4 separate regions of the Homo sapiens genome follow, and all the other regions are linked to region 4. The links come from fine-mapping of genetic effects on gene expression. A gene starts in region 4. Each other region holds a variant in brackets. All regions are shown on one strand. Distances are from middle to middle.

What was found.
Region 1: its variant is fine-mapped to the expression of LINC00958 in thyroid (GTEx, PIP above 0.99).
Region 2: its variant is fine-mapped to the expression of LINC00958 in prefrontal cortex (ROSMAP, PIP 0.95).
Region 3: its variant is fine-mapped to the expression of LINC00958 in whole blood (INTERVAL, PIP above 0.99).

The regions. Positions count from the first base shown.
Region 1 is chr11:13,051,502-13,054,189 of GRCh38, forward strand. No RefSeq gene overlaps it. Among named protein-coding and RNA genes, the nearest start is that of RASSF10, 44 kb to the left of the region's middle. The variant G/A (reference allele first, on the strand shown) is at 1,438.
Region 2 is chr11:13,166,388-13,169,075 of GRCh38, forward strand. No RefSeq gene overlaps it. Among named protein-coding and RNA genes, the nearest start is that of BMAL1, 110 kb to the right of the region's middle. The variant C/CT (reference allele first, on the strand shown) is at 1,592.
Region 3 is chr11:13,011,799-13,014,486 of GRCh38, forward strand. RASSF10 (Ras association domain family member 10) reads left to right here. Exons shown (of 1, transcript NM_001080521.3): 1 at 1-321. Among named protein-coding and RNA genes, the nearest start is that of RASSF10, 3.8 kb to the left of the region's middle. The variant C/G (reference allele first, on the strand shown) is at 1,445.
Region 4 is chr11:12,988,388-12,991,075 of GRCh38, forward strand. LINC00958 (long intergenic non-protein coding RNA 958) reads right to left here and starts at 1,161. Exons shown (of 2, transcript NR_038904.1): 1 at 1,069-1,161.

The DNA.
Region 1 (2,688 bases), 63 kb after region 4:
CCCACTCTCTCCAATTTGGGACATGTCTGTGGAGTTTCTGAGGCCTTTGCTGGGACTGCATTGCTTTGTTGGACTCTCCCTCTGACCAGTCTGCTTTCTTCTTCTCTCTTCCACAGGTATTAATCCCTAGAGAACTCTCTTACAAATTTCCTAAACGCTAATGTCAGAATTTGCCTTCCAAAGGATCCAGCCTAAGATGTGTCCAGTTCAGGAAAGTGTCCTGAAACATTACATTCAGCTGAGTTGTGGGCACTGAGAGAGAGAAACGCAAACAGAGAGTACTTATGATTCCAGGGATCAACTTAAGTGAAGACCCAGACGACTTAAAGACTCAACACCAAAACTTTGAAAACCTTGCCTGTCTCATCTGGGGCCTGACACAGTCTTTGTTGAATGAATTAATAATGATAGGTGAGCTTTTTCTATTTATTTCAGATTGCAGGTTGCATTTGTTTATTTGTTTACAACAAAAGTGCATGAACAAATCATACCAAGCAGGAATAATAATAGCTATCATTTATTGAGCTCTTACTTTGTGCCAAGCACTTTGTGTATACTGTCTTATTTATTTCTCATAATGATCCTGTGAGGCAGATACTATTGTTATTCTAATTTTATAGATAAGAAAACTGAGGTTTAACTAAGTTAAGATGCTTGCTACAGTCAAAGAGCCAGTGAAACTCTTGGCCACACATACTAGACTCCCTGGGGACAAAGAACCTCAAAGGAGCACCGCTGAGAGCTGCTGGAGCCCAGAGGGGGTTGCGCCCTCTCTGCCAGATGTCCATGGATGCCTGGCCCTTTGGATGGTTCTGCCTCATGCAGCTTGAGGCTAGGAGAGCTGAGACCAGGCTACGGTTTGGCTTCTGCCTCTTTATTTCGGGGAATGGCATGAAGATCAAAGTGCTCAGCTGCTGGTGAGAGAGCCATAGTTCCAAAGCTGTAGATAGTTGCCTCTGCTCAAATGAAGGGAAACTTGATAGACGAGTTTTTCCTGCCTTTGGCAAAGAAGGTGCCAGCACAAGGGTAATATTTAAAGATCACACAGGGATTTTTTTTTTTCCAGGAGATTGTGTATTGAAAAAGGGTGTGGGGTTGGCGAGGTGTAAGGGGAGGCCTTTAACAAAAAAAGAAGCTTGTACATAGGTTCCTTTGCTGGTGGGATTTTGTGCACAGAAGATGCAACATGCCTCTTGTTTTTTTCTGCTCATCAACTCAATCATCTGTTCCACCCATGTCTATTGGGTGCCTACTACATGTCAGGCACAGTTCAAGACACTGGGATGTAGCATTCTAGATTGTAGCTTTCATGGAGCTCATATGCTACTGCGGGGAGGATAGGCCTGCCTGTGCAGAGAGCTGGGTTGCAATCTTGTAGTATTTTCTCATGACAATATCGAGTGCTCAGAATTGCTAGCACTAAGCACATGGGTAAGC[G/A]CACAAGTGTAACAATGGGTTTCATCTACGTAAGCAGAGGGAATTACAGAACTAAGCAGGAAAGTCCATGGAGTGCACAAATGGGTGATTGTAAATCCCCTTGATGCATCTGGCAGGACACTTAACAGTGGGGTGCAGGAACGATTTAGAGTAAAACCTTATGAATAACGGGGATGGGGGAGCCAAGGCAGCCAGCCTAGAAGTTGTCCTATTCCCATCAGCAGTTAAAGAGGGCTATAAAGGCCATCTCTTTCAGCATGATGAAGAGCAGAGGTTTTCTAACCTTACTAGCTAGGTTTACTAGCAGCAGGCACTGGACCAAGTGGATTTTCACTGGAGGAGAAATACAGCCTACACATTACATTTGTTGTGCAATTAGAAACAAGAACAGTAAAGGTCAGAGTTAGGAAGATGAAGACTTTGCAGGAGGAAGGACCGAGAGAGCTCACTGACTATTACTGCTTCAGACCTGATACAATGACAGGATGTGCCCTGTGAAGGATCCTGGTGGCACGTGACCCAGCACAGCATGCAGGAGATCCATGGATGAATCACAAGGATAACTGAAGAAGAGATTGCAGAACAGATTCAGGGAAGAGAATGTCAAAGGCCTTTTGTCTTGTCCTAGTGGAAAGGGGCAGGTAGTGAACCCCAGGCCCATGTGGTTGTTTTCATTGTGTACTATTTTTTCCCTACAATAAGTATATTTATGCTTCACAGTTTGAAACATGTGTATGGGTCATCATATATTGTGGACTCTTTATTTTTAAACAAGTCTTTTTGCTGACATGCCTATAAGTATTGACCAGGAGGGGACGTGAGTGGGCATATCCCCTCTCCATGGAAGTTGCCTGGTGCCCACCATGGGCAGACTAGCTGAGCTACCACTTAGAGGGCGGGTCTGACCAAGAGTTAGGAATCCACCATCGTGGTTCGCTCTTTGAATTTCCTCCTGTGTTTTCTACAGTTGTGAAAGCTGCAGTCAGCCCTATCTGTGGGAACTTTAAGAAAGTGACCCATCCGACCCTGCAGCAACTTTCTGCCTGGTTTTTCTAAACTGCTAAGATTTTTGACAAGTGATTTCATGGTCCTTTTATTCCTGTGTGTCAGATGCACAGTATTTACTTTGTACTATGATTTGGATATGCAGAGAAAACATACTTTACTTTTTCTCCACCTAATATAACCTTCCTTTAAAGTCCTCACCCAGCTGGTTAGCAAAGAGAAATTTTGTGTTCAAATTAAGGCTTA
Region 2 (2,688 bases), 180 kb after region 4:
CCCATTTGTGGGCACACACATCCATACCTCTCCCATGATGAGCGCTTCTGGTGTTACTGGCTCCAGGCCTGGATGGTCACTCCTGCTCAGCCTCTGCATCTCTTAACTCTGTCTTCATCTCTGCTTATTGCCTGGCATGTTCTCTCCATGTGGATGCCCTCGTCAGCTAACACACTTCTGGTTTAGCAGTCTCCATGCTGAAAGAATGCCTCTTTTCCAATACTTCCTAGGCAAGCAGCAACTACAGACGCTTGCTACTGTGTCCAGACTCATGGGAACTCTTTGAAGATAAGAAGATGGTCTGAGGAGAGCCAGGATCAAGCGAGGGTGGAATATAGGAGGTGGGAGTCACTGGATCGGAGATGGCAAATGTGTGACAAACATGCTGCCAGCACTCTCCTCACCCACAGCAAACATGGCTAATCAATCCTGGCCCTCTTAATCCTTTCAATACAGACTCTACCAGTGAGTAGTTGAAACCTATTTACTGTTTCTACATTAAACTCTATATTCAGCCAGTAGAGTTCTTAGCACATGATAGGTACTTAGTAAATACTGAATTAACAAAACTGAACCAGAGCTTCATTTAATCCAGGAGTAAGCTTAGTAACAGGGTGGGTCAAAGATTAGGAACCTGAAGGTCAAATCTTTTCACAGAGTTAGGAACAGGTGCAGTGCCAAAAGCCAGGAAATCAAAATCAAAGCCCCTAGAATGTCAAGTCACTTGGGCCACTGCAGTAATTCCTAATAGGTCCCCCCACCTCTGGTCTTGGCCCTTCCCACCCTCAACAATGCCTTCTCCACATCAAAACCACCCCTCACTAGCTTCTTTAAAACCTTTGCTGATTTCTCTTTGCTTTGGGAATAAAAACAAGACACTTCCTACGGCTTCCAAGGCTGCCAGCCCAAGCCAATGTCTCTTCCTGCAGCCTCACTTCCACACATCCCCCACTGAGCTAAGGAGCTTTACACAGCTACCTCATCTAATCGCACCACCCAACCATGAACCAGGCTTGATAGTCTAATTTTATCAGTGACAAATTCTCACCTGGTATTCAGGGAGATTATATGAATTAGCCAAAGTCATGAAGCTGCCAAACATAATTTGAATCCATTTCTGTCTGGTTCTGAAGACTGCATTCAGGAATAGATGAGACAATTCCCATTAATTCAGCTTTATTTATCAGGGACTTTCTTTGCTTTTTACTAAAATAAAATCAAAACAAAAGAGAACTGGCTATTGGTCCATTGGAACCCATACACACATATGCAAAGGGAGGGGGACAGAGACACAGAGACAGGGAAACAGACAGAGACAGAGAAAGAGAAACAGTGACAGAGACACAGAGAGATAGAGAAACACAGAAAGAGATACAGAGAAACAGAGAGAGATAGTGTAAGAGACACAGAGACAGAGACAGAGAGACACACACACACAGAGATCTCGTTGCTTGGTTCACTTTCAGCCCATTGTGTCTGCATGATGTAAACAGAGATTTCTAGTTAGTGTGTGTGACTAGCGCCAACTTCCCAAAGAGGAGAATGCCTAAAAGTACTGTTTTCCTTTATGTTCCATTTTTTCTTTTTCTTC[C/CT]TTTTTTTTTTTCATAGTTTTTCATACCTTCAAGTCTGAAGAGAAGGAATTCCAGGAAAGTGTCCCCCTCAATGAGTGAGCCATTTCTGAACGGGGCCAGAATAGCCACAACTAGGATTTTCCTCTCTCTCACCCCTCTTTCTACCCCCTACCTCCCATAGATTTGATTATGAGTGAAACTTTGCTCCTACACACAGGGAGGTCCTCTTCCATCGGGCTGGGCCCTCACTCAGAATGCAAATGCCCCAGGGCTGAAAAGCACCTTTCACCAGAAATGTCCTAGCTGGAGTCTTTTTAGCCTTGACTGACAAGAGCATCCACACATTACAGGGCAGTGCCTTCTCCCTGGCACTGCCATTTGGCTTAGCTCCAAAAACTAAAGAAATCAAGCCTCAAAGGACGCACAGTGTTGCCTTGCTGGACGGAAGCCCACACTGACCACATGAAAAGTACCATTTCTCCTGTCCAGCAGCCCACTGTGGCACTGCAGGCTGGGACCTGACAGCAAGAGGCTGCATGTCAGAAGGAAGCAATGCAAAAAGGGTGTGGAGCTTGCAGCCTTAGCATTCACCACCATGCTGGCGGACTCCAAAGATAAACAGCGCACCCTTTCCCAGAAGGGGTTCAGGGTTGTTGCAACATCCCCCAGCTATTTATCTCAGGTAAAAGGTGCAGCAGGTCTTCCAGTTTCCTTCTTCCAGAGTAGGTATGCTTGCTTTTATAAACTTGGTATGACTAACATGTAAACTTTACACATCTGAGCAGGGCTATCCCTTTAGGTAACTTTTCCTATGCTCCTTGGAGGAGCTGAGTTTTCATCTGTGCTAGGAAAGGTCTGATTGAAAGGGAAGAGCTTCAGTGGCCACTGCAGAAGAAAGTCCACCTTTGACAGTCTTTTTTAAAGATCAGTCAAAGCAAGAAGTGGGCAGATCAGAGAAACAGTGCAGAGACACCAGGGCCCCGGATCTCAGTGCTAAGAAATTTTACACGAGGTTTTGGGATCAACCATGGCTCACCATGCCCTGTGGTTGACAAAACACAAGCTGTAGGCATCTTAGGGTTACCAGAGCAAGAGATCTACAAAGGAGGCCAGTGAT
Region 3 (2,688 bases), 23 kb after region 4:
TTTATTATTACAAAAGCCAAACATAATCATTTGAGATATAAAATCCTGGCAAACATAATCGTGGTTAAAATTTAATCTGGGCCCTTTGGGATCTGTCCCTTCAAAGGCAGGTGAGTTGCCCTTTAATTCGTATTGCCACTTCATTGACTCAATCACTGTTATTTCAGAAAAAAATAAAAGGAAGTAGCAGAATTCAAGTTACGCAAAACAAAACTTGCTGTCTAACAAGCACTCTTTGAAAGCAAAGATGTTTTAGTGTTCAGCTTTTAAATTGAGCTATGTGATTAAAACCAACCATGACCTTAACGGATTTTACCCAAACTCGTCTAACTTCAGTATGTTTTGTCAGAGATTAATCAGTTACTTGTTCAAACTTAAATTGAGATAGTGTAAATATCAGGGTTTCCTAGATAAGGACAGAAAAGAAAAAAATAAAACAATCTCATAGTACTCCTTGGGTGAACAATGTGATTAACGATGGCACGTAGTCATGGAAAAAAAGATAAAAAGTGAGTTAAGAACTTGAATTACTCTTGTCTGGCACACGCCTATGCACATGCCAGGAGATGCAAGTGCAACACCATCTCAGTAGCTGGCGACAGAGCTGGTGGGGACTCCATGTAATTGTTCCAGTTGTTTCAATTAAAACTTATCAGTTGTAGCTAGTTGTTGGCCCCGCGGAAGGAGCCTGCTGGCCGATTTCCCTCTGCAGCTCAGTACTTCTGAGGAATGTGGGATCTAATCTGTCCTGAGAAGGTTATTAACAATGGGGCATGTGTGTGGTACCAGCATGGTGCAGAAGCCTCTTATCAACCTACTCTTGAGGGGCTGGCTCCAGTTTCAACACTACATGTGAAGATAACTTAAGAGGTCTTGCTTTATACAGAAGTTCCTTCCCTTGCAGAGATTCTCTATCTGCTTGTTGCCAATGGGAGCCTGCCCTTATGACCTCCTCAAACCACTGTTTGTGCTGTCTCCTTTTTAGAGACAGCACCCCCCACCCGCCCCGCACTACCACCACCACTGCCCTGGTATTACAACATGTGTGCCTGTTTGCAGATTTTCAAGTAAAAATGGGAATTTAAAGGCCATTTTCTTAATTGATGTTTTCAAAAGACATTAGCTGGCATAACTATGGTTTTTTAGTTTCATCTGATGCAGGAAATGTCTATGCATTTGGTCTTGAACATGATAAAAATGAGGAAGGGACTGAAAAAAACCCACCATCCCCAGACAATCATTTGATCCCATAAACACGAAACCTAATGATAGCTTTCATTTTGAGGCAGAGGTAAAATCCTCATTAGAGTGTGACAAAATGCTACTTGTCTGAATGGTTTATGCTGACAATGGGCTGACCTGGTGGTTTTAAAATTATTGTGCTGTTTTTCCCCCTCAGGGTGGTAGGGGAGTGATTCTTGGACGTTTATTAACTCAAAAAGAA[C/G]GCAGAAGTTGGCAGAACAGAACTGCCTGGAAGAAAGGGGCTGTTTTCCTTTTCACTATTATTATTTTAAACTTTGATGGGCTGCTGACGTCAGCAAATATGCTTGACGCCTGTAAAGCAAATAAGCCACATCACAAGCAGAAAGCCTGTGGGATTTTCTGGTGCCCTATTTCTAGAACCTTCCCTGTTCTGACCATTTGAAGGTGCTTATTTAGTCAACCGTTCAGGCAGCTGCGAGGCTTTATTGATAACAAATGGCAGCCTATTTGGCCCATTTTTTTTCTTTTATCCAAATCAATTATATTCCTAAAAGGCACTCTCTGTGAGTAGAAGAAAGGAGTGTGTAGAACAGGCTGACGTGGGGGAGCGGGGAGGAAGGAGACAATAGTTCTTTTTACTAAGAGCTTTCGCAAGCCTGAGAAAGGTGAAATAAAGGTATAAAAAGCACCAAAACAGTGCCTGTGCATAGGAAGTGCTTAATAAATGCTAAATACTTCAAGTTTTAATTCACATTTATGGTCACCATGGCATTAAGAATGAGAATAAATGCATGACAGGGAATGTACCAATGTCAGGATTTCAGCGCCCCTGGGAAAATTAACTCAGCTCCTATTCTCCAGCTCTAATGGAAATCCTGGGCAGAAACCAGCAAACTTAAGAAGGGTATGAAATGTAGGTCCCTTACCAGTCAGCCCCACCCTTTTTTTTTTTTTTTGGTAACTGAGATAATTTATTGTATTTTTGATCTGAGTTATCCTAGTCTCAGCCATCTCCCAAACCAAAAGATTCCATATGGCATCTTTATGTTTGTTTATTTCCTTATAAAGTGTGTTTATTTTTTGCTGATTAGAAAAGTTGTGTACACGATAGTCCTTACGATGAACCTGAAAATAACATAAAAAGGCAAGAAAAGTCACTCTAAATCTCTGTACCAAAAACCTGTCACTACCAAGATTGGTATATTTACTTCCAAACCTTTTGAATTGTGCAGATTTCATATTTGCTTCTGTATTTAAAAATATATAATTTTGATAAGATTGTATATACATGTTTATACTCAGGTTTGACAGACTCCCTGTAAACAGATCTACCCATCTGGTGGATATACCATAGTTTACAGAACTGCGCATGTTATCAGTTTGTTTCCCATACTTTTTTTTACTGTTATAAAATAACACCGTAATAAGTTTCTCTGTGCATGTATCTGTTTACCTAATTAGACTCCCACCCTCCCCACAATAAGA
Region 4 (2,688 bases):
CTCGAACTCCTTACCTCAAGCAATCCTCCCTCAGCCTCCCAAAGTGCTGGGATTACAGGCATGAGGCACTGCATCTGGCCTAAAATAAACAAACAAACAAACAAACAGTGATTGATTTAGTAAACATTATCTTTTTCTCTGGAAAACTGAGTTACATGGATTTCACAAGGTTACTGACTTTCAATGTATGGCTAAAATTGGTGGTAGATTAATTTATGGACATGCTAGTAACAAAATAGAATTTAATAATCTGTTTCATCCTCTAAGTATTTCTGACATTTTGTTGTTGTTGCTCATTAGTCCCTGGCTACAAATAACCACAAACTCCCTAGTTAAGATGATGTCAGGACTCTCAGACTAGGGAAAAAAGCCACATTCTGGTTGTAAATGAAAATTTAACGGAGAATAAGATATTTGAAAGAGAAAATCATTGTTTTGAGAAAGGAACAAAGAAGCCAGACAAGGTATAAACTTTACCAAATGTTCAAAAAATTCATTTAATATCGGGCTTTATAATTCATGAAGTTTCTTTTCTTTTGGCTGCCAACTTATCTAATTACAATTCTAGATTGACAGCAAAAATATTTAATATTCTCTGAGGAAATACCCAACTCAGGTGAGACAAGGACAGAGCAATGAAATGGAAGAAAACTGTGAGAAACCAGGGAGACTGTATTAGTCCGTTTTCACACTGCTATAAAGGACTACCTGAGGGCCAGGCATGTTGGCTCACGCCTGTAATCTCAGTACTTTGGGAGGCCGAGGCGGGTGGACCAGCTGAGATCAGGAGTTGGAGACGAGCCTGGCCAACCTGGTGAAATCCCATCTCTACTAAAAATACAAAAATTAGCTGGGCATAGTGTCGGGCGCCTGTAATCCCAGCTACTCGGGAGGCTGAGGCAGGAGAATCACTTGAACTCGGGAGGCGGCGGTTGCACTGAGCCGGGATCACGCCATTGCACTCCAGCCTGGGAAACAGATGAGACTCCGTCTCCAAAAAAAAAAAAAAAAAAAAAGAACTACCCGAGACGGAGTAGTTTATAAAGAAAGGAGGTTTAATTAACTCACCGTTCCGCATGGCTGGGGAGGCCTCAGGAAACTGCAGAGGGTGAGAGGGAAGCAAGCAGTTTCTTCACAATGCAGCAGGAGAGAGAGAGAGAGTGAGGTAGGAAGTGCCACACTTTTAAGCCGTCAGATCTCGTGAGAACTCACTCATCATCACGAGAACAGCATGGGGCAAACCGCACCACGATTGAGTCACCTCCCACCAGGTCCCTCCCTAACATGTGGGGATTATAATTCAAGATAACATTTGGGTAGGGACGCAGAGCCAAACCATATCAGAGACAATCCACGAGGGCCATGAGGTCGGCTCAGCCCTGATGTACTCTGGAAATCCTGGAATCAATGTGCCCATAGAGGGATGTGTGACAGGGAGGAGGGATCCTAGAGGGTCATGATATGACCTGGAGGCAATGAGATCAAATTCCTGGTCCTGCTAAGCCCCCAAATCGTAAGAGTTTACATGCTTTCAGGTATTTCTGGACTGTGCTTTTTAACGTCTCAAAACCTTTTTACATACATCACCTCATTTGAGCCTGATACAGACTAGTGAGCTAGGTGAGGGCTGGTTCTTCTCTATCTAGGTGAGGAAAGTGACAATCGGGAAGAGAAAGGACAAAAACCACTGCATGTTAATGGAAATAAATGACAAGGAGAAACAAAACAAAGGCAAGGACTCCATGGTGATGAAAGAAAGGCACATTGCCCAGGAAGGGAAGTGGAGGCCATGGCCCCACTTCTGCTCCTGACCCCAACCAGGAGACCACCAAGTTGAACCCAAGGGTGTGGCTGAAGATGTGCCTGGTCTTCTAAGATGTTTGCTGTCCAACTGCTGGTGTTGAACCTCCACTCCTCCTAGTTCCTTAATCATGTAGATAAGTCTATTTACATCCTCCACTAATACCAACTTTTACAGTGGAACGGGGTAAAGCCCTAAAAAGTATTTGTTACTGTAATGTACCATATAGTGGTAATTATTATTATAAGAAAGTAACTTGTAAACTGCCAAGTGCTATACAAATGTCCATTATCATTATTATGATGATGATTAGATAATGATCATGTTGGTTTTTCTCCAACCCAAGGAGTGCTCATTCAGTCCCATCTTTTCTTCTTCAATTTCAGTAGCTTCCCTATCCAAAGCCAAACAAATTTTAGTGTTCTTAATACCCTCAGTATGGTAGCTTGTTAATGTCTCTTAAAAGCTCAAATAATTTATGCTTACTTTTTAAACTTTCTTCTTATAACACAGCTTCCCCTCCCTTCCCTCCCTGTCCCCCAAAGCCAGAAACTCTAGTGGGCTAGAGAAATCTCCAACTGGCAGAGCTTTTAGAAATAGAGTTAGGCGACGGGGTGTGGTGGCTCACGCCTGTAATCCCAGCACTGTGGGGGGCCAAACCGGGGGGGGGCGGGTGTGGATCACTTGAGGTCAGGAGTTCAAGACTAGCCTGGCCAACATCGTGAAACCCTGTCTCTACTAAAAATATAAAAATTAGCCGGGTGTGGTGGTGTGTACCTGTAGTTCCAGCTACTCAGGAGGCTGAGGCAGGAGAATCGCTTGAACCCGGGAAGCGGCGGTTGCAGTGAGCCGAGATTGCACCGCTGCACTCCAGCCTAGGCGACAGA